Homo sapiens: one gene and its partners. The protein of the gene in region 7 purifies or fractionates together with the protein of the main gene of each other region. This does not show direct contact. Each region holds a gene or a part of one and is shown on either strand. Other genes may lie near its edges.

Evidence for each region.
Region 1: the proteins of BMP7 (region 7) and BTBD1 purify together in Homo sapiens (affinity purification with mass spectrometry; 2 studies listed by BioGRID and IntAct, with this or other methods). This does not show direct contact.
Region 2: the proteins of BMP7 (region 7) and GSTCD purify together in Homo sapiens (affinity purification with mass spectrometry; 2 studies listed by BioGRID and IntAct, with this or other methods). This does not show direct contact.
Region 3: the proteins of BMP7 (region 7) and TRIM56 purify together in Homo sapiens (affinity purification with mass spectrometry, with the first as the bait; one large-scale study listed by BioGRID). This does not show direct contact.
Region 4: the proteins of BMP7 (region 7) and UBE4A purify together in Homo sapiens (affinity purification with western blotting; one study listed by BioGRID). This does not show direct contact.
Region 5: the proteins of BMP7 (region 7) and AMD1 purify together in Homo sapiens (affinity purification with mass spectrometry; 2 studies listed by BioGRID and IntAct, with this or other methods). This does not show direct contact.
Region 6: the proteins of BMP7 (region 7) and UBE3C purify together in Homo sapiens (affinity purification with mass spectrometry, with the first as the bait; one large-scale study listed by BioGRID). This does not show direct contact.

What each region holds. Positions count from the first base shown.
Region 1 is NC_000015.10:83,057,253-83,060,752, forward strand, and holds part of BTBD1 (BTB/POZ domain-containing protein 1), read right to left. Parts: intron 1-3,500.
Region 2 is NC_000004.12:105,729,284-105,732,783, reverse strand, and holds part of GSTCD (glutathione S-transferase C-terminal domain-containing protein), read right to left. Parts: intron 3,379-3,500; coding exon 3,285-3,378; intron 1-3,284.
Region 3 is NC_000007.14:101,088,481-101,091,980, forward strand, and holds part of TRIM56 (E3 ubiquitin-protein ligase TRIM56), read left to right. Parts: coding exon 1-1,100; 3' UTR 1,101-3,500.
Region 4 is NC_000011.10:118,373,100-118,376,599, reverse strand, and holds part of UBE4A (ubiquitin conjugation factor E4 A), read right to left. Parts: coding exon 3,312-3,500; intron 3,107-3,311; coding exon 2,915-3,106; intron 1,705-2,914; coding exon 1,371-1,704; intron 27-1,370; coding exon 1-26.
Region 5 is NC_000006.12:110,881,285-110,884,784, reverse strand, and holds part of AMD1 (S-adenosylmethionine decarboxylase proenzyme), read right to left. Parts: intron 1-3,500.
Region 6 is NC_000007.14:157,141,926-157,145,425, reverse strand, and holds part of UBE3C (ubiquitin-protein ligase E3C), read right to left. Parts: intron 1-3,500. UniProt on the Homo sapiens protein: E3 ubiquitin-protein ligase that specifically catalyzes 'Lys-29'- and 'Lys-48'-linked polyubiquitin chains.
Region 7 is NC_000020.11:57,221,642-57,225,141, reverse strand, and holds part of BMP7 (bone morphogenetic protein 7 preproprotein), read left to right. Parts: intron 1-3,500. UniProt on the Homo sapiens protein: Growth factor of the TGF-beta superfamily that plays important role in various biological processes, including embryogenesis, hematopoiesis, neurogenesis and skeletal morphogenesis.

The DNA of each region.
Region 1 (3,500 bases), on a different chromosome or scaffold from region 7:
GCCATACAGTAAGGCCAAGAGGAAATAGACTGCTTGGGTTTGAGCTTGTTTTGTCACTTGCTAGCCATGTGACTTATTATCAATGCCTGCCTCTCTAAAAAGATGAGAATAAGAGCACCTACTTCATAATGTGGTTGTGAGGATTAACATAAATTAAAACACAAAGCATTTTGAATAACGCCTGACAAAAAAAATTGCCTCAGTAAATATTAGCTATTTATCTGTATGTTGTCTCATATTTTTTATCATTATTTCCCTCTGCATTTTGGAAGATTTCCTTGCCATTATCTTCTGGTGCCTTCCTATTTTTCTCTACAGCAATCACATTTAAATTTCTAAGAATGCTTGCTTCTTTCTTGATCGTTCCTTTTTTCTCCACAGCACCATGTGCTGGTTTTATGAACGCAAAAACTTTCTGAAGTCTCCAAGATGACATTAACCAAAGTTTTAAAAGTTCTCGTCTGTTTCCTTGAGGATCCGCTGTTGTGTTTCTCTTGGTCTCTGTCATTCACGTTCTGCTTTTCCTTATATGTCAGATGATTAAACTCCGTCTCCAACTTCACTATTCTAAGCAGCTGGTCTGTTTTCAAGATAATACTATCTCCAAAACAGAAATGTTGGCTGGGAGCTCTGTGTATGTGGGAGGCTTGCTGACTGGCACCTGGCATTAGAGTGGGAAGCCAGCCCTAGGGCAGGGACCCCTCAAAGCCATTGGAAGAGAGCTTAACCCTGGGGTCCCAAAGCCATACCCAGCAGTCCCAGTTCTTCTCAGGCAGTTTGTTCAATTTATCTCAAAAAGCCTGTCCATTGTCATGGACAGCTGGCTAAGGGGATGGTCTATACACAGGCTTTAAATTAATTTCCATGTTTTAGCACTACCTTCTCATTTCCACCCTCCTTACTTCCAACTGCTAGCCAAGAACTTTGTTGGGGTTCTGCCAGGAAAGGCGCTCCAGCTCCGCTGCGGCTTTGAAAGCTCTGGATTCTGGGCTCCAGATTCATCTACTCTAGTTCATCCATCAATCAGCTTCCAACTTCTCTGTCCCTTTCTACTCTGTTGGCCCTTCCAACCTCTCTTTTTCTCTTCATTGTAATGGACTTACTATTTTTTAAAAATTTCTTAATAGTCATTTTAATTGAGAGAGAGAGAATGCTAACAGCATGCTCAATTCCCTTCTTAAACTAGAAAACTATGAAATTTTTGTTTTAGGCCAGGCACGGTGGCTCATGCCTGTCATCCCAGCTATCTGGGAGGTTGAGGCAGGAGACTCACTTGAATCTGGGAGGTGGAGGCTGCAGGGAGCGGAGATCGCAACACTGCACTCTAGCCCGGCCAACAAAGTGAGACTTAAAAAAATTTTTTTTTAATTAAAAAAAAAAAGAAATTTTTGTTTGAAGGACAAGGTAGCAGTCTAGAAGTCTTTACATGCCTGCCTTGATGTATTTTTGTCAGGTAAAAATTACTAGAGTTGTAAAACAGAGCAGCAATGTGAGGCCTTTATCACCATTTGCCCTTGATTAGATTCACACTTAACAGGACAAGTGCCGCAAACCTATACATGGTTCTATGAGAATCTATAAATGCGGGCTTTGACTTAGGAAGATGTGGAAAAGGTTTGTAGAGAAATTTCTGCTTGAGATTAGATCTAAAGATTAAAAGGACGGTGGGAAGTACACTCCAGGAACAAGAGAGAATCAAGTTTGTAGATTATTTTGTGTGAGATCTCCCATTCAAATTGCTTTTATCAAATTATACTTCAGTAATATACTTTTGCTTTCTATCAAGGAACATTTTTTAAAACAAGTATGTATCTGAAGACACAGACTGAAGACACTTCATTACAGCAATGTCTTCTGTATGAGGGGATCTCATCAGGATTTTTTTAAAAACTCATCTAATTATCAGATTTGTGCATCTCCTAAGCAGTTGCCTTGTTTTTAATCTATAAATAATTACGTCCACCCAGGTTTCTCTTTTTGCACTAGCTGCTCAGATAATTAAAACAAAGTTGGCCGGGCATGGTGGCTCACGCCTGTAATCCCAGCACTTTGGGAGGCAAAGGCAGGTGGATCACCTGAGGTCAGGAGTTCAAGATCAGCCTGCCCAACCTGGTGAAACCCCGACTCTACTAAAAACACAAAAATTAGCCGGCATGGTGGCGGGCGCCTGTAATCCCAGCTACTCAGGAGGCTGAGGCAGGAGAATCACTTGAACCCGGGCAGCAGGGGTTGCAGTTAGCTGAGATCACGCCATTGTACTCCAGCCTGGGCGACAGAGCAAGACTCCGTCTCAAAAACAACAACAACAACAACAACAAAAGTTTATAGCTTATACATTTTGTTTGTTTTTGAGACAGGGTCTCATTGTCACTCCGGGTGGAGAGTGGTGGCACGATCATAGCTCACTGTATCCTGAAATTCCTGGGCTCAGGTGAATCTCCTGCTTCAGCCTCCAGAGTAACTAACACTACAGGCACATGCCACTAGGCTCAGCTCATTTTTTTTTATGCTTTATGTTTTTGTAGAGACAGGTCTTGCTATATTTCCCAGGCTAGTTTCAAACTCCTGGCCTCAAGCAATCCTCCCGCCTCAGCCTCCCCAAGTGCTGGGATTATAGGCCTGAGCCACTGTACCCAGCTTGACAGCATACATTTTTCTATTAGCTTCACCCTTGACTCTAGTTTATTTCTTACCCTTGTGTTTCTTATAAGACATTTTAAGTTCTTTTGGGTGCACTGCAAATTAAAAATAAATACTGGACAATAAACAGTAAGAAAAGGATCTCTGTGTATCTTATATTTTTAATTTATTTCTTAAACAGTACCAGGCACATTATGGGCATGTGTTTAAGTCTCAATAAATACACGTTAATTGACTAGACAATTCAGCACAGGTTTCTATGTAACGTCAAAAGGGAAAATATTTTCATTTCTAATAAAAAAAGTTACTTAAAAATCCAAGAATCCTCTTGATTCATATGTATACATTTCCTTTACATTCTATTTAATTATTAGAGTTTTTATAATATTTAAAAAAAAACTAAGCCAAGGTTTTTAAAATGTAAAGATTAAACATGACATTACCACAATTCTTCGTATTTTAAAGTGATCATTTAAGCTCTCATATACAACCTCTAAGGACGAGAGCACAGAAAAATTATTACATGTCCTCAAATTAGTCCTATTTTCCCCCCAAATTAATAATTTTCAAAAAAAAAAAAAAACAACTTAGGTTATATTTAATCTAACTAAAAATTTAAAGCCGGGCACGGTAGCTCACACCTGTAATCCCAGCACTTTGGGAGGCCGAGGCAGGCGGATCACCTGGGGTCAGGAGTTTGAGACCAGCCTGGCCAATATGGTAAAACCCCATCTCTACTAAAAATACAAAAATTAGCCAGGCGTGGTGGCACACACCTGTAATCCCAGCTATTCGGGAGGCTAAGCCAGGAGAATTGCTTGAACCCAGCAAGCGGAGATTGGGTAAGCCAAGATCGCGCC
Region 2 (3,500 bases), on a different chromosome or scaffold from region 7:
TAACATCACAATTAAAAGAACTAGAGAAGCAAGAGCAAACACATTCAAAAGCTAGCAGAAGGCAAGAAATAACTGAGATCAGAGCAGAACTGAAGGAGATAGAGACACAAAAAACCCTTCAAAAAATCAATGAATCCAGGAGCTGGTTTTTTGAAAAGATCAACAAAATTGATAGACTGCTGGCAAGACTAATAAAGAAGACAAGAGAGAAGAATCAACTAGATGCAATAAAAAATGATAAAGGTGATATCACCACCGATCCCAAGAAATACAAATTACCATCAGAGAATACTATAAACACCTCTATGCAAATAAACTAGAAAATCTAGAAGAAATGGACAAATTACTGGACACATACACCCTCCAAAGATTAAACCAGGAAGATGTTGAATCCCTGAATAGACCAATAACAGGCTCTGAAATTGAGGCAATAATTAATAGCCTACCAACCAAAAAAAGTCCAGGACCAGACGGATTCACAGCCGAATTCTACCAGAGGTACAAGGAGGAGCTGGTACCATTCCTTCTGAAACTATTCCAATCAATAGCAAAAGAGGGAATCCTCCCTAACTCATTTTATGAGGCCAGCATCATCCTGATACCAAAGCCTGGCAGAAACACAACAAAAAAAGAATTTTAGACCAATATCCCTGATGAACATTGATGCAAAAATCCTCAATAAAATACTGGCAACCCGAATCCAGCAGCACATCAAAGAGCTTATCCACCATGATCAAGTAGGCTTAATCCCTGGGATGCAAGGCTGGTTCAACATATGCAAATCAATAAACGTAATCCAGCATATAAACAGAACCAAAGACAAAAACCACATGATTATCTCAATAGATGCAGAAAAGGCCTTTGGCAAAATTCAACAGCCCTTCATGCTAAAAACTCTCAATAAATTAGGTATTGATGGGATGTTTCTCAAAATAATAAGAGCTATTTATGACAAACCCACAGCCAATATCATACTGAATGGGCAAAAACTGGAAGCATTCCCTTTGAAAACTGGCACAAGACAGGGATGCCCTCTCTCATCACTCCTATTCAACATAGTGTTGGAAGTTCTGGCCAGGGCAATCAGGCAGGAGAAAGAAATTGTCCCTGTTTGCAGATGACATGATTGTGTATTTAGAAAACCCCATTGTCTCTGGCCAAAATCTCTTTAAGCTGATAAGCAACTTCAGCAAAGTCACAGGATACAAAATCAATGTGCAAAAATCACAAGCATTCTTATACACCAATAACAGACAGAGAGCCAAATTATGAGTGAACTCCCATTCACAATTGTTTCAAAGAGAATAAAATACCTAGGAATCCAACTTACAAGGGATGTGAAGGACCTCTTCAAGGAGAACTACAAACTCCTGCTCAATGAAATAAAAGAGGACACAAACAAATGGAAGAACATTCCATGCTCATGGATAGGAAGAATCAATATTGTGAAAATGGCCATACTGCCCAAGGTAATTTATAGATTCAATGTCATCCTCATCAAGCTACCAATGACTTTCTTCACAAAATTGGAAAAAACTACTTTAAAGTTCATATGGAACCAAAAAAGAGCCCGCATTGCCAAGACAATCCTAAGCCAAAAGAACAAAGCTGGAGACATCACACTACCTGACTTCAAACTATACTACAAGGCTACAGTAACCAAAACAGCATGGTACTGGTACCAAAACAGAGATATAGACCAATGGAACAGAACAGAGCCCTCAGAAATAATACCACACATCTACAACCATCTGATCTTTGACAAACCTGACAAAAACAAGAAATTCCCCATTTAATAAATGATGCTGGGAAAACTGGCAAGCCATATGTAGAAAGCTGAAACTCGATCCCTTCCTTACACCCCATACAAAAATTATTCAAGATGGATTGAAGACTTAAATCTTAGACCTAAAACCATAAAAACCCTAGAAGAAAACCTAGGCAATACCATTCAGGACATAGGCATGGGCAAGGACTTCATGTCTAACACACCAAAAGCAATGGGAACAAAAGCCAAAATTGACAAAAGGGATCTAATTAAACTAAAGATCTTCTGCACAGCAAAAGAAACTACCATCAGAGTGAACAGGCAACCTACAGAATGGGAGAAATTTTTTGCCATCTACTCATCTGACAAAGGGCTAATATCCAGAATCTACAATGAACTCAAACAAATTTACAAGAAAAAAACAAACAAGCCCATCAAAAAGTGGGCGAAGGATATGAACAGACACTTCTCAAAAGAAGACATTTATGCAGCCAAAGACACATGAAAAAATGTTCATCATCACTGGCCATCAGAGAAATGCAAATCAAAACCACAATGAGATACCATCTCACACCAGTTAGAATGGTGATCATTAAAAAGTCAAGAAACAACAGGTGCTGGATACAATGTGGAGAAATAGGAACACTTTTACACTGTTGGTGGGACTGTAAACTAGTTTAACCATTGTGGAAGACAGTGTGGTGATTCCTCAAGGAGCTAGAACTAGAAATACCATTTGACCCAGCCATCCCATTACTGGGTATATACCCAAAGGATTATAAATCATGCTGCTATAAAGACACAAGCACATGTATGTTCATTGCGGCACTATTCACAATAGCAAAGACTTGGAACCAACCCAAATGTCCATCAATGTTAGACTGGATTAAGAATATGTGGCACATATACACCATGGAATACTATGCAGCCATAAAAAAGGATGAGTTCATGTCCTTTGTAGGGACATGGGTGAAGCTGGAAACCATCATCCTCAGTAAAGTATCGCAAGGAGAAAAAGCAAACACCGCATGTTCTCACTCATAGGTGAGAAGTGAACAATGAGAACACTTGGACACAGGAAGGGGAACATCACACACCGGGGCCTGTTGTGGGGTAGGGGGAGTGGGGAGGGATAGCATTAGGAGATATACCTAATGTAAATGATGAGTTAATGGGTGCAGCACACCAACATGGCACATGTATACATATGTAACAAACCTGCACGTTGTGCTCATGTACCTTAGAACTTAAAGTAAAATTAAAACAAAACAAAAATCAAAATATGTCAGCAAAGAAAAAACAGTAACAAATAAAACAAATGTAGAAAAATGTGAGAAATATTAAATCTAAGTGGTGTGTGTATATATAATTTTCATAAGAAAAATAAAATGAAAACTCAACTGATAGTATAATCAGAATATTAGATAAAGCCAAAGGGAGATTTAGAGAATTAGAAGACATATCTGAAGACAGTATCCAAAGTATGAATAAAACTTAAAGAAAAAAGAAAACTCACCTTCCTTTGGGCTGACTGCTGCAGGGAGAACATTCCAATCAAGAGTCCAAGTAGGGCAAGGGTGGGGAGAAAACATCACTTCAATGCCCTTTTCCTAGAAAAGGAAATAGCCTCTTTCTAAATTAAGGAATTAATATAGTCTTATTATATTATTGAAGGCTAAAAAATTATATTTGTATATTGGTAAGGAGGAGGATAAATAGTAATAATCATCAG
Region 3 (3,500 bases), on a different chromosome or scaffold from region 7:
AGGAGAGCCAGAGCCGGAGGGAGGATGAGCCGAAGACTGAGAGACAGGGTGGAGTCCAGCCCCAGGCTGGAGATGGAGCCCAGACCCCAAAAGAGGAAAAAGCCCAGACAACCCGAGAAGAGGGAGCCCAGACCTTGGAGGAGGACAGGGCCCAGACACCCCACGAGGATGGAGGACCCCAGCCCCACAGGGGTGGCAGACCCAACAAGAAGAAAAAGTTCAAAGGCAGGCTCAAGTCAATTTCCCGGGAGCCCAGCCCAGCCCTGGGGCCGAATCTGGACGGCTCTGGCCTCCTCCCCAGACCCATCTTTTACTGCAGTTTCCCCACGCGGATGCCTGGAGACAAGCGGTCCCCCCGGATCACCGGGCTCTGTCCCTTCGGTCCCCGGGAGATCCTGGTGGCGGATGAGCAGAACCGGGCACTGAAACGCTTCTCCCTCAACGGCGACTACAAGGGCACCGTGCCGGTCCCTGAGGGCTGCTCCCCTTGCAGCGTGGCCGCCCTGCAGAGCGCGGTGGCCTTCTCCGCTAGCGCACGGCTCTATCTCATCAACCCCAACGGCGAAGTGCAGTGGCGCAGGGCCCTGAGCCTCTCCCAGGCCAGCCACGCGGTGGCGGCACTGCCTAGCGGGGACCGCGTGGCTGTCAGCGTGGCGGGCCACGTGGAGGTGTACAATATGGAAGGCAGCCTGGCCACCCGGTTCATTCCTGGAGGCAAGGCCAGCCGGGGCCTGCGGGCGCTGGTGTTTCTGACCACCAGCCCCCAGGGGCATTTCGTGGGGTCGGACTGGCAGCAGAATAGTGTGGTAATCTGTGATGGGCTGGGCCAGGTGGTTGGGGAGTACAAGGGGCCAGGCCTGCATGGCTGCCAGCCGGGCTCCGTGTCTGTGGATAAGAAGGGCTACATCTTTCTGACCCTTCGAGAAGTCAACAAGGTGGTGATCCTGGACCCGAAGGGGTCCCTCCTTGGAGACTTCCTGACAGCCTACCACGGCCTGGAAAAGCCCCGGGTTACCACCATGGTGGATGGCAGGTACCTGGTCGTGTCCCTCAGTAACGGGACCATCCACATCTTTCGGGTCCGTTCTCCGGACAGTTAAAGGGGCTAGGACTAGGGTGAGAGGGAGTGGGGAGGGAGAGGGCAGGAAGGAGGCAGAGCTGTCCGTGGGAGGTGGAGGCCGAGGACATTTTCCTGAAGGGCAGGGGTTGGCAACTTTTCAACATGGAGTGCCAAACTGCTAACCCGTCTTCTAGTGTGTGAGAATAGGGACCAAGGTGGTGGCGTGACCTTAACTCTCAGAAGCAGAGGAGGCAGGTGGGTGGAGGGGGATGCTGGGAGTTCACCTGCCTCTTGCTTTTTGTGGGTGGCTGCTGCCACCACCGCCGCTGCTATATAGTTTAGGTTTCTGAGGTTTGTGAGCCTGTCCTGCTTTGCATTCTTCAAAACCATTCCTGATAGAGTAGCCGAGGGAGAGTCTTGGGGCCAAGAAGGGCCCAGGGTGGGTCAGGCGTGTGCACTGTGGAACAGAGCTGAGACCCCGGCCCCCCTTGGACTGGCACAGGGTCCTACAGAGTCAGAGGAGGCCTGAGATTTCGAATGGGCAGTGAATGGCCTCTTCTGCCAGCCACAGGCAGGATGCTCCTTGATCACGGCATCCCCCGGCGGTAGTACAGGGTGAGCTTGCAGGAGGGTCTGCAAGTGCAGACAGCAGCTGGGGCCAAAGAGGTGTTAGGTTCAAAGGCTGCGAAGAGAATAGGCTACTGGAAAACCAAACCCAACAGAATTCACGTCCAAAAATCCACATTCTCCATCGCTTCTCAGCCTTTTGGCTAAGATTAAGTATTAAAAAAAAACCAGGCTCTGCCAGGCGCAGTGGCTCATGCCTATAATCCCGGCACTTTGGGAGTCTGTGGCAGGAGGATTGCTTGAGGCCAGGAGTTTGAGACCAGCCTGGGCAACATAGCGAGACCCCATCTCTACAAAAGATTAAAAATTAGCTGCGTGTAGTAGCATATGCCTTTCAACGTAGCTACTCAGGAGGCTGAGGTGGGAGGATCCCTTGAGCCGAGGAGTTTGAGTCTGCAGTGAGCTATGATCGCACCACTGCATTCCAGACCCCATCTCGAAAAAAAAAAAAAAAAAAAAAAACAGAAACAACAGAAAAAGCAGGTTATCCATCACTTCTCAGCTAAGATCAAGTGTTAAAATAAATAAATAAATAAATAAATAAATAAATAAATAAATACCAAGTTATGAGTGTCAGAGCAGGGGAGCCCTCCACGCAGCCACGGAGCCAGTCTGAGGGAAGAGGTACATAGGATAGAAAAATCTCTAGGCTCCAACGCTTCTGCTTCGGTGTCTTTCCATTTCCCAGGGTCTATGTGTTGCCTTCTCTTCATTTTCCAGCAAAATTCCTTTTGAGATATGTTGGCCTTCACTCGGCTGAACTAGGGGGTGAAGGAAGGTTGTCCTCTGTGGGCCACTATTGCTGGGGAAACAGCTAAACCCTGCAGGCCAAGTGGAACTTGGAGGTGCCAAGAAAACCTAGAAGGTGCAATGGGGCTGCGACGGATAGAGGTGTCAAACCAGAAGGGAGGAACCCGTCGGAGGTGGGCTGTGACCACCGGACCTTTTCATAAGTGGTGGCAGTGGTAGAATTGAGGGGGCAAGTAGGCTTGGAGAATGTTTTTAGCCAGGGGCTGTTGAGAGATGGCAGAAGGGGGTCTTAATGTGGGGACTGTGGACAGTGGGGCATTCGTGGGAACCAGAGGGATTTTGGACAAGTCCAGATGGAATGTGCAGGGCATAGGTAGAGGGAAAAGAAAATCCCTTTCTGGGAAAACCATTTCTTGTTTATTGAAACAATGCAGGACATCATCAAAGTCCGGGTGGACACATTCCATTATCTACAAATTACAAAGGTAGGCACAGCAAAGAATAATGAAGATTATAAGAAAACCAAGCGCCAGGCACGGTGACTCAAGCCTGTAATCCCAGCACTCTGGGAGGCTGGGGTGGGTGGATCACTCAAGGTCAGGAGTTCGAGACCAGCCTGGCCAACATGGAGAAACCCCATCTCTACTAAAAATACAAAAATTAGCTAGGCGTGGGAGCGGGCGTCTGTAATCCCAGCTACTTGGGAGGCTGAGGCAGGAGAATCATTTGAACCCAGGAGGTGGAAGTTGCAGTGAGCTCAGATCGCACCATTGCACTCCAGCCTGGGTAACAAGAATGAAACTCCATCTCAAAAAAAAAGAAAAAGAAAAGAAAGAAAACCAAGGTCCCTCTCCCTCTCCCTCTCCCCACGGTCTCCCTCTGCCTCTCTTTCCATGGTCACGGTCTCCCTCTGATGCCGAGCCGAAGCTGGACTGTACTGCTGCCATCTCGGCTCACTGCAACCTCCCTGCCTGATTCTCCTGCCTCAGCCTGCCGAGTGCCTGCGATTGCAGGCGCGCGCCGCCACGCCTGACTGGTTTTCGTATTTTTTTGGTGGAGACGG
Region 4 (3,500 bases), on a different chromosome or scaffold from region 7:
GATCAAACAGGTTTCTTTGTCCAAACCTCAAAGAAGTTAAAAAAAAAAAAGAGGGTAAATGTCTTGGTCTCCAGTCTCCTCTTACACTCATTCAATTTCCATACTGTTAGCAGTGATATCTTCTTAAAAACATATCTTGTCATATTAGTTCTTTGTCTGAATATATCTTTTGGTTTCTCACCGTCTACAGAAATACAGTTAAATCTTTTTCATGAAATCACCAAAAATTAAAAGGAATACTACTATAGATTGTTTCAAGTGATAGGCAATAGATCATTTGTATTTATTTTGTGCTTTTCTGAATTTGATTATTTGCTTTTGAGCAGTTATCATGTTTACAATTAGAATTATAAAACTGGAATGAAATATACCAAAATTAAGAGTGATTTCACTTTGAATGGTAGGACTGTGAGTCATTTATTTTCTCTTCATTTCTCTGTACTGTTTTCTCCAATCCAGCCCCACCTATCTTCCTCCCTTGATCCATTTCCTCCCCAACTCAACCCCATCTACCCCTTGCCCTAGCCACATTGAGCCTCTCACCATTCCTTAGTCAAGATTTTCCATAGCTTTGTACCTTTACACTTGCTTTTCTCTCTGTATAAAGGGACCCTCTTGCTTCTTTGCCTGGTAAAACCTAACTTGTCTCTCAAGACTCAGCTATGAAGACCTCCAACTTCTGCAGAATTGATTATTTACTCCCTCCTCTGTGCTCCCATAGCTTAGCCCTATACCATATTATAATTATCAGTTAATATATCTGCCTTCTGGAGCCTGAGTTCAAAAAGGATGAGGACTCTGCTTTATTCATTTTTATAAACTATGAATGAATGAATATGCAAGGCTGCCAAATCCAGAGAGAAGGTCTCACTAAAGTACAACATTTAAAAGCTACCAGGTGTTTTTTTTTTTCTCTCAAACATCTGTCTTTTAAAAATTCTGGCTGGGCGTGGTGGCTCACGCCTGTAATCCCAGCACTTTGAGAGGCTGAGGCGGATGGATCATGAGGTCAAGAGATCGAGACTATCCTGGCCAACATGGTGAAACTCCGTCTCTATTAAAAATACACAAAATTAGCTGGGCGTGGTGGCGCGTGCCTGTAGTCCCAGCTACTCGGGAGGCTGAGGCAGGAGAATCGCTGGAACACGGGAGGCAGAGATTGCGGTGAGCCAAGATAGCGTCACTGCACTACAGCCTGAGTGACAGAGTAAGACTCCATCTCAAAAAAAAAGAAAAAAAAATCGAAATAGCTCGTTTCTGCCTCATCTTTTTTTGAGAAAGGAACTCTGTGAAAAAGGATAAGGGAGTGAATGCTTTACACGTTACACACACACACACACACAGTTTTGAGAAGCCTGGTTCTCTCCTACCTCTCATGTGTACATTTTTAATTTTTCGTTCTTCATCATTCAACTCCTTGAGGGCACAGTATGTGGGATTAAAGGTGAGGAGCCGAGAGGATCTGGGTTTGCAAAATGGCTGGCATAGCTTCAGGAGAGCAGCACCCAGATTCAGAAAGAAAGCATCTGAGGCATACATTTGGAAAAAGATTTCTGGCATCTGATTGGCCCAAATCTTGGTGCGGCCTGCATTTGCATGCAAACAGTTTCCAAGCCAGGACAAGATACAGTGTTTGGTTTCTGGAGAGAGCTGGAGTAAGTTCTTCAGCATCTGGTAGATCTTTTCGTGGAACTGAGCCATGAACTGTTCAACCAGAAAACACAACCACAGAACGTTTCACAATCCTAATAGTTTTTATTCCCAAACCTTAGCAACTGGCAGTTTCCAAAAATATGCTAATCCTAATCTTTCCCCTCACTCTCTGTGCCTCATCCCCTAATTTGATTTTAAAATATATTTCTGGGCACTTATAAGAGATTTTCTGATCAGCTGCCCAACTGCAGATGGCATTACACGGTATTAGAGCACAGGTCTGTAAATTTTTTCTGCAAAGGGCTAGACAATAAGGATTTCTGGCATTACTTGCCATACAGTGTCTGTAGCAATTATTCAACTCTATCACTGTAGTATGAATTCAAACCAGAAACAATACATATACTAATGCGCATGGCTATGTTCAATAAACCTTTATTTACAAAAACAGGTGGCAGGCCAGATTTGGCCACTGCTAGTTTGCCATGCCTTGCCTTAGAGAGTTGTAATGATTAATGATTAGGGGACTTAAACTATCCCCAATTCAATCATTCAATGCCTCATGTTGGCCAGACCTCTACTATAATTTATGTGAAGAAGCCCAAAGAGAGGGCATAGGTGGAGACACGAAAAGGAAGAAAAACTGGGTTTATAAGCTAGAGTTCAGTCAAAAGATTTTCAGAGCTAAAGTTATAGCTCAGTGAGAAAAATGAGGGTTGGGGAGAAGTAGCTGTAGCAGTGCTACAGCAAAGGGTAATGAGTAGCAGCAGCTCATTCTTACCCCACACGTGCTGTTCTTAGCATATGCTACAAAGAGGGGATTTTTTTTTTTTGAGACAGAGTCTTCTTCTGTCATCCAGGCCGGAGCGTGATGATGCAATCATGGCTTACTGAAGTCTTGACCTCCCAGGCTCAAGTGATCCTCCCACCTCAGCCTCCCGAGTAGGTGGGACTACAGATGCTTGCCACCATGCCCACCTAAGTTTTGTATTTTTTTGTAGACATGGGGGTCTCACTGTGTTGCCTAGGCTGGTTTCAAATTGAACTCCTGGGCTCAAGCGATCCTCCCACCTTGGCCTCCCAAAGTGCCGGGATTACAGGCTTGAGCTACCATGCCCAGTTTTAATTTATTTATGTGATGTAAAAGCCAACTAGATCAATTTGCTTTCCCAGAGAGGCTTGAGCAGCCTTATCTGTATCTGCTTTCTGAGAAAACTCTTTTAAGATCAGGGGGCTGGGATACCCTGGTAAACAGTTCCACCTGATGGATGTTGGCCTCCTGTACTTTGATCTCCTGGGGGCTGGAACGAGATGGATTCAAAAAGTAGCCATGATTTTCTACAACACCCGGAGTCTTTAATAAGCAGGAGATACTCAGAATTACTCCCAGCAAGGTCTTCTGGTACATTTGCCCATTGGTAGGGTCCTTGGGCTGAATGTATTCTACAAAAACCTGTAAGAGAAGACAAGTTCTGCTTATTCATCTTCATGGTGAGATAAGGTGATGGGGTGGGAGGGCCTCAAAACAGTTAAGTTGATACAACAACCAAGCTATCTTTTTCTTATTTTATAGGTAGTATTATAGTGTCTTCAGGATAGGGAAGCATCATGTATTACACATCTAGCTCAACTGAATACATATCATCTTTCAGACCTACCTTTGCCATATCTTTTTGCCTAGTGAAATAGAGAAGAATATCCAGATATGCATACAAAAGGATCTGACAGAGCTCTAGATCTTTTATTCGGCCCAATAAAATATCAAACACTGGAATCATGACTTCTGGAAATGTTCTAACTTCCTCATCCAATATCAAGGCTTCAATGACCTCTTCCAGAAACTCAGT
Region 5 (3,500 bases), on a different chromosome or scaffold from region 7:
CGTTCCATGGCTGAACTAAACAGTGTAACAGTCTTTTCCTTTCTTATTTTTGTTTTCTCTTTTTTTAAAGGCTGTTGTGGCCAGGCACTGTGGTTCAGAGGCCAAGAAGGAAGGATCACGAGACCAGAAGTTCAAGACCAGCCTGGGCAACATAGCAATAGCCAGTCTCTTAAAAAGAAAAAAGGCAGCTGGGAGTGGTGGTGCAGGTCTGTAGTCCCAGCTACTCGGTAGGCTGATGTGGGAAGTTTGCTTGAGCCCAGGAGATGGAGGGTGCAGTGAACCATGATCACACCGCTACACTCCAGCCAGGGTAACAGAGCAAGACCCTCTCTTAAAACAAAGTATTCACCCTTACAACTTGTAGCACAGATACTTTAAAGTCTTGGTCCATGTCACCTTGAGGTTGGTGTCTGCTGTCTTTTCCTTTGAGATGTTAAGATTTTCCTGGTTTTGAGTATGTTGACTAATTTAGGATGGCATCCTGGATATTTTGACATGTTACATCATTCTAGGTCTTGATTTTTAAAAACTTTCAGCAGACAATCTGGTTTGGTTTAGGCTTCAAGTTTTTACTCAATGTTTCTAGGTTGTGTTATGGTTCCAGTGTCAGGTTTGTTATGAACTCCTTTGCTATGTTATTTGCATCTGCCCCACTTATTTGCCACCCAATGGCCAGGCTGGCCCTGGAGAGGCAGTCTATTGTGTATTCTAGTTTTCAAAGCCTCTGATGTGCTGTTTAGGGTCAGATCCATGCAAAATGGCTAAGGAGTGTTCATATAAAACTTTATAGGTTTACTTTCTTCAACCTTCCATAATCTCTCTGACAATGCCTGACTCACATAGGGGATAGGGGAAGGACTCTTCTTCATCCACTACCTATAAAAATAGGGCTTTGGCCGGGCGCAGTGGCTCACGCCTGTAATCCCAGCACTCTGGGAGGCAGGAGGATCACAAGGTCAGGAGATCAAGACCATCCTGGCTAACAAGGTGAAACCCCGTCTCTACTAAAAATAAAAAAAAAAAAAATTAGCTGGGCATGGTGGCGGGCACCTGTAGTCCCAGCTACTTGGGTGGCTGCGGCGGGAGAATGGCATGAACCCGGAAGGCGGAGCTTGCAGTGAGCCGAGATCGTGTCACTGCACTCCAGCCCTGGCTACAGAGCAAGACTCTGTCTCAAAAACAAACAACAAACAAAAAATGATTCCCTTCTCTCGTTGTTTTAGACATCTGCCTAACTGCCACAGCTGCTAAAGGCCTACAAGAGGATTGGGGCAGAATAGAACAAAACAAAAGCAAAAAAGAGATTTCTTCCACTCTGATTCAAAGGGGCCTCTCATTCTTTCTTTGCAGAGGAGAACTAGAGAGCCTTTCTTGGAACTATTTTTGCCTGCCCCTACTTTTCAGTTCTGGGTTTCTGGCAAGCCCAGGAGAAATCAGCGAGGAGATACCACAGGGGAAAAAAAACAGGAAATTCACTGCTGGTTCAGTGGAATTTAAAGTTCTGGCTTTCTTCTCCATTTCACCTGCTAAAATTTACTTCTCAGAGTCCTTGGATAGCTGCTCAACAATGCATTCTGTCCAGGGTTTATTAATTGCATTTTAATAAGAGAAGACAGTGTAGCATGCTTCTTCTGTAATGGCAGAGAAATAACCTTTTGTTTTCTGAGCCAGTCTCACTGTCACCCAGGCTGGAGAACAATGGCACAATCACAGCTCACTGCAGCCTTGGCCTCCCATGCTCAAAGAGATCCTCCCACCTCAGCCTCCCAAGTAGCTGGGACCACAGGGCATGTATCACTACACCTTACTAATATATTTTTAATTGTTTTGTAGAGATGAGGTCTCCCTATGTTGCCCAGGTTGGTCTCAAACTCCTGGGCTAATGAGATCCTCCCATCTCAGCTTCCCAAAGTGCTAGGATTATAGGCACGTGCCAACCCATTGGCTTCAAAATGCTCTTATACTCACTCATCATCAGTTAATAAAATTCTCCATTCAAACCTTTCCTCAACTAATAGTAATGCTCCGGTAATCAGAATTTTTCAATCATAGTATCAAAAGAAAGCAATTACTTTAAGCAACCTAGGACAAACAGTTAAACTGTCTATCAACCTAGTGATGATAAAGGCATTTACCAGAGCTACTAAGCTCAAGAAAAATAAATCAGAGGGCAAAATAGACGAAAGAAAAAAGTAGTCAATACAATGCTATACATGTACATAAAAGAGGTGAAAAACTCTGCAACAGCTGAAAATTTCAGCACAAATTATTTCTATCACATTTCTGTGGGAAAAAATGGCCTGCTTTTGTAAATAAAGCTCTACTGGAACCTAGCCACACCCATTCATTTATACATTGACTATGGTTATTTTCTCCCTATAAGGGCAGAGCTGAGTAATTGCAACAGACTGTCTGCCTTGCAAAATTTAAAATTTACTCCCTAGTCCTTTACAGAAAGTTTGCTGACTCTTGTTTTGGAGGAAAGGTTTTCAGTGGTCTGCTTTCTGATCAAATTAATGATGGAAAAGACAAAGTGCTTTATACAGTCGACAGAGCCATTTTTAAAATTAGGTTGCAGTGAGCCAAGATCGTGCCACTGCACACCAGCCTGGGCGACAGAGTGAGACTGTGTGTCAAAAATAGAAAAGATAGTATTAAGCTAGAATGTTTTATCAGGCTCAGTAGTGATAGTGGTCTTGTCTCTGCTTCACTCCCAAGTACACTACAAACTGAGACTTTGAAGCACTAGTCTATTATAAACTATTTATAAAACTGATCTATTTGGCAATCCTTGCTATTTAAAGAGTCAATAAATCAAATTGATGGATATAAAGCAGAATCAAGAGAAGCAAGATAGCAAGATGATTTTGGGATTTGTTCACATTACAGCTCACGTAATACTGATCTAGTCATTAGAAATTATTATAAAGCTATTCAAGCACACAATTTTTTTTTTTTTTGAGATGCAGTCTTGTTCTGTCACCTAGGCTGGAGTGCAGTGGTATGCTATCAGCTCACTGCAAACTCCGCCTCCCAGGTTCAAGCAAGTCTCCTGCCCCAGCCTCCCGAGTAGTTGGGACTGATTACAGGCATCTGCCACCATGTCAGGCTAATTTTTTTTTTGTATTTTTAGTAGAGAAGGTGTTTCACCATGCTGGCCAGGCTGGTCTCGAACTCCTGACCTCAAGCAATCCACCCGCCTCGGCCTCCCAAAGTGCTGGGATTTGGGATTACAGGCATGCACCACCATGCCTGGCCCGAAGCACACAATTCTTAGGTGGTTATAAAACACAAAGAAATATGTAGATTGAGTATTTCCTGATTTGAATTCCTTTTTCTCATCTTAAATGCCACCTCTCTGATCTAACTCAGTGGTTCTCAACTTGTAGTAATTTTGCCACCCAGAAGACATGTGGCAACATTTGGAGACATTTTTTATCACAACTGGGGTGGTGGTGGTGTTGCCAGCATGCAGTGGATAGAGGCCAGGGACACTGCTA
Region 6 (3,500 bases), on a different chromosome or scaffold from region 7:
CTGCCTCAGCCTCCTGAGTAGCTGCAATTACAGGCACCTGTCACCACGCCTGGCTAATTTTTGTATTTTTAGTAGAGATAGAGTATCACCATGTTGACCAGGCTGGTCTCGAACTCTTGACTCCAGGTGATACACCCTCCTTGGCCTTCCAAAGTGCCGGGCCTCCTCCTTTTTTCTTTTTTTTGGAGACAGAGTCATGCTCTGTCACCCAGGCTGGAATGCGCTGGCACAATCCAGGCTCACTGCAACCTCCACCTCCAGGGCTCAAGTAATTCTCCTGCCTCAGCCTCCCACGCCCAGCTAATTTTTTGTATTTTTAGTAGTGACGGGGTTTCACCACGTTGGCCAGGCTGGTCTCAAACTCCTGACTGCCTACCTCGGCCTCCTAAAGTGCTGGGATTACAGGCATTAGCCACCACACCTGGCCAGCAATGAGGATTTCTAGGGCAATGACACTCTTCTGTATAACGCTGTAAGGGTAGATACATGTCATCATATATTCGTCAAAACCTACACAATGCACAACACACAGTGTGAACCTGAATGTACACTATGGACTTCAATTAATAATAACACATCGACATTGGTTTATCAATTGTAACTGATGATCCACATTAATGCCAGATGCTAGTAATAGAGAAAAGTGAGGTGAGGGAGACTAGGCATATGGGAACCCTACCCTCTGCTTGATTGTAAACCTGAAACTGCTCTAAAAAATAAAGTCTATTTTTTTTTAAAAAAAGCACTGGACAAACATTAAAGTGATCTTAATTCTACTCCCACTATTGTCAGATCTACAAAAACTTAAAAAATTTCAGTTCCTCCGGTCTACAAACTTTTCTATATCCATATTCATCCCTAGCTTCTTTAAGTCTCAAAATATTTCCCATTGCCTGCTCCCACTCAGTTCTCCCCTCTCGGGTATTCTCGAAGACTCTGAAAGTTATGCCACTCCTGTCTTCCCCACATTTTTAACCCCCGTCCTTCCCAGTCTATAAACTTAAGTTTCCCCCGTCTCCCAAAACAGACAAAACTATTTCCGAGACACCGAATTTCCCTCTATCATCCAATCTTCCGGTGCTTTTCAAAAAAGGTCTACACTGTTGCCTTGCCCCTGCCTTATTTTTTAAGAGATGGGGTCATGCTGTGTCGCCTAGGCTGGAGTGCTATGGCATGATCACAGCTCACTGCAGCCTTGAACTCCCGGGATCCAGCGATCCTCCCGCCTCAGTCTTCGGTGTGGCAGATTGTAGGCGTGCGCCACAGCATCCGGCCTGTGTTCGGCCCTGTTTGTGACTTCCCATTCACTCTCCAATGTGCTATGCTCTTGACTTCCAACTCTGACTACCCTACAGAATATGCTCAAATCACCCAATTCTTCCCAGCTCCGCAGTCAGTGGACTCACTGTGTCTGTGCAGCACTTGGCATTGCCTGTCACTCCTCCCTCCCTGAGATTCACTCCCTGGACACCACTCTCCTCCACTCCCGGAGGTGTGACTCTTTTGTAAGTATCCCCAACTCCCACACATATTAAATGTTGCAGTACCTCACGAGTCCCACCCTGTCCCAAACTCCAAGTCCTCTTAAGGACCTGTGTTCGAAGCCACCATTCTGTTGATAACCCCCAAATCTGCATCTCTAGCCTAGACTCCTTCCTGTGCCTGTCCCACAGGAACTCAGGCATTCAGTCAACGACCACTCCCCGCTTCTTGAAGAATCTACCCCAGCCCTCAGGTGCACCTAGACTGTTCCATCTGAACCAAGCCTCCAAGCCCTCCTCAGACTGAGGTTATCAGGTGGAAACATGACCCAGGCCAATCAGACTTTCCTCTCCTGAAAACTGGTAATTATGATCAAACTTTCTTGACGCTTAAGCTAGGAAACCATGTGTGAGAAATGGAGAAAGCCAGTCTGCAGAGCCAGGAATGAAGGAGACAGGAAGAAGGGAGTGCACCCAGCTCCTGGAGAAAGACAAGCAACTCCTGTGGTGGTGATACCTGCTATCTGGGTGTTTCTGACCTTTCTATTCTGTCAGACACGCCTATCCTTTCATAAACTTGTTTTTGTTTCTTTTTGTTTTGCCTACTAAGCTAGTTTTAGTCCATTTCTGTACTTGAAATCAGATGACCCCGTGATATTCTTCTATACACTACCAAGAAAAACATACCCCCAATTAAACTGCATCATGCTATCAGTGTGTATCCCGATGTCAGAAATATTTAAAGATAGAAATCAGTGTGACTTAAAAAAAAATTTCAGGCTGAGCGCAGTGGCTCATACCTGTAATCCCAGCACTTTGGGAGGCTGAGGCAGGCGGATCACCTGAGGTCGGGAGTTCGAGACCCGCCCGACCGACATGGAGAAACCCCATCTCTACTAAAAATACAAAATTAGCCAGACGTGGTGGTGCAGGCCTGTAATCCCAGCTACCCGGGAAGCTGAGGCAGGAGAATCGCTTGAACCCGGGAGGTGGAGGTTTGTGGTGAGCTGAGATCGCACCATTGCACTCCAGCCTGGGCAACACTGCGCTCCAGCGTGAGCGAAACTCCATCTCAAAAAAAAAAAAAAAATTCAACTTTTATTTTAGAGTTAGGGGGTACCTATGCACGTTTGTTACAAGAATATACTGCAGGACGCGGAGGTTTGGGGTGTGAATGATCCCATTACCCGGGGAGTGAGCACAGTTACCAACAGGTAGCTTCCCAGCCCTTGTCCCCGTCCCTCTCTTTCCCCCTCTAGTAGTCCCTGGTGTCTATCATCCCATCTTTATGTCCATGTGTAATCAATGTTTAGCTCCCCAAAGTGACTTTGAATCAATGTAATCCAATCTACATGTACTCCACACACCCCGCTCCACGAACCTGGAATGCCTTCTCGTCTTCCACCCATCCTAATTACACCCATCCTTCAGGACTAAGCTCCAAACAATTCTACTTTTTCTGAATCAGGACCAAGGGAAATTTAGAATGTAGCAATTACTCTATTGTTATTTAATTTTTAATTGCTTAAGTCTTATCTGCCCAACAAGATTATCAACTTCTTCAAGTCAGACTTGTCGTACACAGATCTATACAAATAATAAATACTAAAAGTATTTAATTTGAAAAAAGAAAAAGCTTATTCAAAGGTGGTAACCACTCCATTTTCCACTAAGCTCCAGAAAGGGAAGATTTCAAATAATAATTTAAGACATGAGAAAAGGGTCACTATAACTTCATTTTTCCAACAAGGGAAGGGACTTATGCGGCAGTCAAAGAGAATTCAGGAAAACAAGCATATGTAGGTGCTCAACATAATTAGTTGTCAGGAAACAAAATTAAAACCACAAAGAAACTACATCCTCACTAAAATTAAAGGACTTGCAATATCAAGTGTTGGCAAGGATGTGGAAACCTGGATACCTTCAGATGCTGTGGGCGTGCGACACGGGGAAACTGTGGCAGCGGTGTGCACAACAGCTGAACATGCGTATCATCTAGGACCCAGCACAAGAGTATTA
Region 7 (3,500 bases):
GAAGGCCTCCTGCAGACCTCAGCCCGGGGGAGCCCAGAGCCTGCCCTGCTGTCCCCGCCATGTGGCTGCCTCTGTCTCTGTGCCGCCAGCTGCCCAGCTGTGCAGGGCTGGGACATCTGACGAGCTGTGCCTGAGCTCCAGGAAAGCCCCGGGGGTGCCGAGGATTAGCCGGCTTTGGGTCAGCCTCAGCGTCTCTCCCCTTGTGGGAGTCACTTTCCACTGACTCCTCTTGATCTCTCGGAATCCAGATTAAATTCCGATAATGAGCCGAGCTGGAGGCCTTCCATAGCCCTGCGGCTCTGCTTAAAGCGCGGCCCCAGACAGCTGGAAAGACATGTTGGAGCCGCCCTTGGCGGGCTGTGGAGCGAGTGGGGGCTCAGAGGCAGGTCTGGGGACAGTGGCCTTGGCTCCAGAGGCCTTGCTGGGGTGAGAGGGGGCTGCGAAAGGATCGGAGTCTTATCCTCATTTTCTGAACCCCAGGCCTGAGGCCAGGCCAGCTGGGGCCTGGCTTCCAGGAGCTGGACTTGCTCCTGTCTCCATTGGTGCAGACTTTGGTTCCAGGTGAAGGTGAGGATATTTGGGGTAGGGGTTGTGCTGTTTGCCCTGTTTCTGCTGTGGAGCTGGGACCTGGCATCTTCCATCCCAGTCTTCCCCGTCTCTCCTTGAGCATGTGTCAGGCTTGCCCCACTCCACAGCGCTGCCCCACATGTAGGCGACACACTTCTGCTTTGGGAGCTGGCCTCTGAGAACCTCCCTGGGAGGCCAAGGCCAGCCAGGGCAGCAGAATCTGCTCCAAGGGAGTCGGCCGCCACCAAGGTCGAGATGATGTTGGCAGCTGGATGAAAATGTCCCTGGGTTCATCTCAGTGATTTTGGCTGCCAGGAGGGTGACCTCAGCGTGGTCTCGAGGGCCAAGATTTGGATCAGCTGCAGCCTGAGTCACTCTGAGGAAGAGGGAGCTGCCCCCTGCCTGTCCCCACCACACAGGATGGATTGGCAGAGGAGGCCTGGGCTCAGTTTCCTGGGTCCCTTCAGCCCAGGCAGAGGCTCTTGCCCTCGACTAGCCCTGGGATGGGGGCCCTGAGTTTCTGCCTTTCTGAGAAGCTCCCTGGGGACGCCGTGATGATTTTGGTCCATAAACCTGAGAAGGTAGGTGGGGCTGGATGTGGTAGGAGGAACGATGCAGCCCCCTCACAGGGCGGCCCTCGGGCAGTGGGCCAAGGGCTCCTTGCCCAGTCCTCTCCTGGGGATGCTGGGGTGGTGGCAACTTATGATGTGCGGATTCATGACTTGGTAGCAAGACTCTGGGCGGGTTTTGCCCTGCCGTTAGCCCCCATGAGCGTGTTTGGGCAGAGAGCCATGGTCACGTTCCAGAGCATGTCTCCACCCTGTGGTTGAGGCTTCTTGTTGCGTGGTGCTTACTGTTTATGACTGTGCTGGACACTTCAGCTTTGTTTCATGCCTTGGAAAGGTTCCTATGAAGATGTATCATCCCCATTTTACAGGTGCGGAGCCTGGCTCAGAGGTGGGAAGTAACTTGCCCAAAAGCACACAGCTACAAAGTGGCAGAGGTGGGGCTCAAACCCAGGCTCTTAGATTTCAGCAGTCACCATCTTAGCCATGGCCGTGCCTCAGTGATTCCCATAGTGCTGATTCCCTCACCTGGGGCTCAGATGGGTCCATTGATGAGTCCTGAGCTGGTTTTCAGCCTTGGCTGTGCAATAGAATCACAGAGGCTTTTAAAACTCCTGATCCGTAGGGGTTGAACTGTCATTGGTGTGCTTTAAAAGCTCCCAGGTGATTCCCTGTGTGCTGGGGTGTGAACAGGTGGCTAAGATCTCTCTAATTTCTCACCCATGAGCTGTCTTACATGCCCAAGAGGAAGGAAAGAGATTCCTTTTTTTTTTTTTTTTGAGATGGAGTCTCACTGTGTTGCCCAGGCTGGAGTGCAGTGGCACGATCCCAGCTCACTGCAACCTCCACCTCTCAAGTTCAAGTGATTCTCCTGCCTCAGCCTCCCAAGTAGCTGGGATTACAAGTATGTACCACCATGCCTGGCTGATTTTTTTATTTTTAGTAGAGATGGGGTTTCACCATGTATTGGCCTTCTGTGACACATTCCATGTTCCCTTCAGCTTGGTGTCTCAGAGAAGACTGTTCTTCTTCCCATGAGACTGAGCCCAAAGTGTAGTCCAGACCACAATTGTCAGTCTCAATGGCACAGGAAAGGGACTGGCTAAGGGTGAAGATCCCTTTGGACTCTGGCTCCAGAGGCTTCTGGAAGCTTCTGGAAGCTTCCAGAAGCCTCTGGAGTTTCTTGCTGCTCCTGAAGGCTACATGCCTGTTTCCTCGTCTCCTGGCTTCTACCCCTTGCCACTACACCTCAGCCCCAGGGCATGAGTTCTGGTTTTGAGCTGCCTTCTCAGGATGTGCCAGGTCAGCTTCCTGAGTAGCCTTTTCAGAGGGCAAGGAGGATTCCTTTTGGCTGCTGGGAACTTCCAGGATGTCCTGGAAGGTCAGAGGAGAGCAGCCCTCATCAAGGAGCCTTGGCATTTTTCCTCGCAGTCCCTTTCTCTGGGCCTCACTCCAGAACCGAGACTGAAGCTGCCTGAGAGGGAGTGGCAGGCCCTTAATGCCTTTGGTTCCGCTTGGGGTCCTCTCATGGATCTGCAAGGATCCCTCTGGAAAAAGCCACCCAGCTGGGCAGAGATGGCAAACCACTGTGTTCAATCCAGTTAATGCCAGAGACACAGCCAGTATCCCCTACTCAGCATCTGGGGGCCAAATGCCCGTTGGCTTCCTGTCCTGTGGCCTGAGGCCATCTGGTGGGCCTTGGTGGCTTTTTTTTATCTCTGTCCCTGTTATTTCTTCCCATAATTCATCCCGAGCCTGGCTTCACAGGGAGCATACGGGTGGTGGCTGGGAATCGATGGCAACAGATTCCGTTTGCTGAGTGTTTGCGGCGGGCGGGGGCTCAGCAGGTTGCCCACATTTTCCCTGATTCCCCGTAGGTGTTATATCACGTTCAGTGAAGCCGAGCGGGTGTCCCCACGAGGTGGTCAGTCCTGCCCCTCTTGTAGACCACCTGTGGGAAAGGTCTGCTCTCTTTACGTTTCCATCGATTTAGCTGGGTCCACAATGCGATCTTGGAGCCTCCTCTCTCCCATGACACTTGTCTATGCTGGGAGAAGGGATGGCTGCCTTTGGGAACAGTCATGATGACAAAAGCTAATTGCATGCAATGGGGGCTCTTTACTGCTTCCCACAACAACCCCCCATGGAGACACCCTTATCCCTGCCCACCCCTCTTTTTTTTTTTTTTTTTTTTTTTGAGAGATAGGGTCTTGCTCTGTTGCTCTGCTGGAGTGCAGTGGAGTGATCACAGCTCACTGCAGCCTCGACCTCCTGGGTTGGAGCAATCGTCCCACCTGAGCCTCTCAAGTAGCTAGGACCATAGGAACACACCACTATGTCTGGCTAGTTTTTTACTTTTGTAGAGAT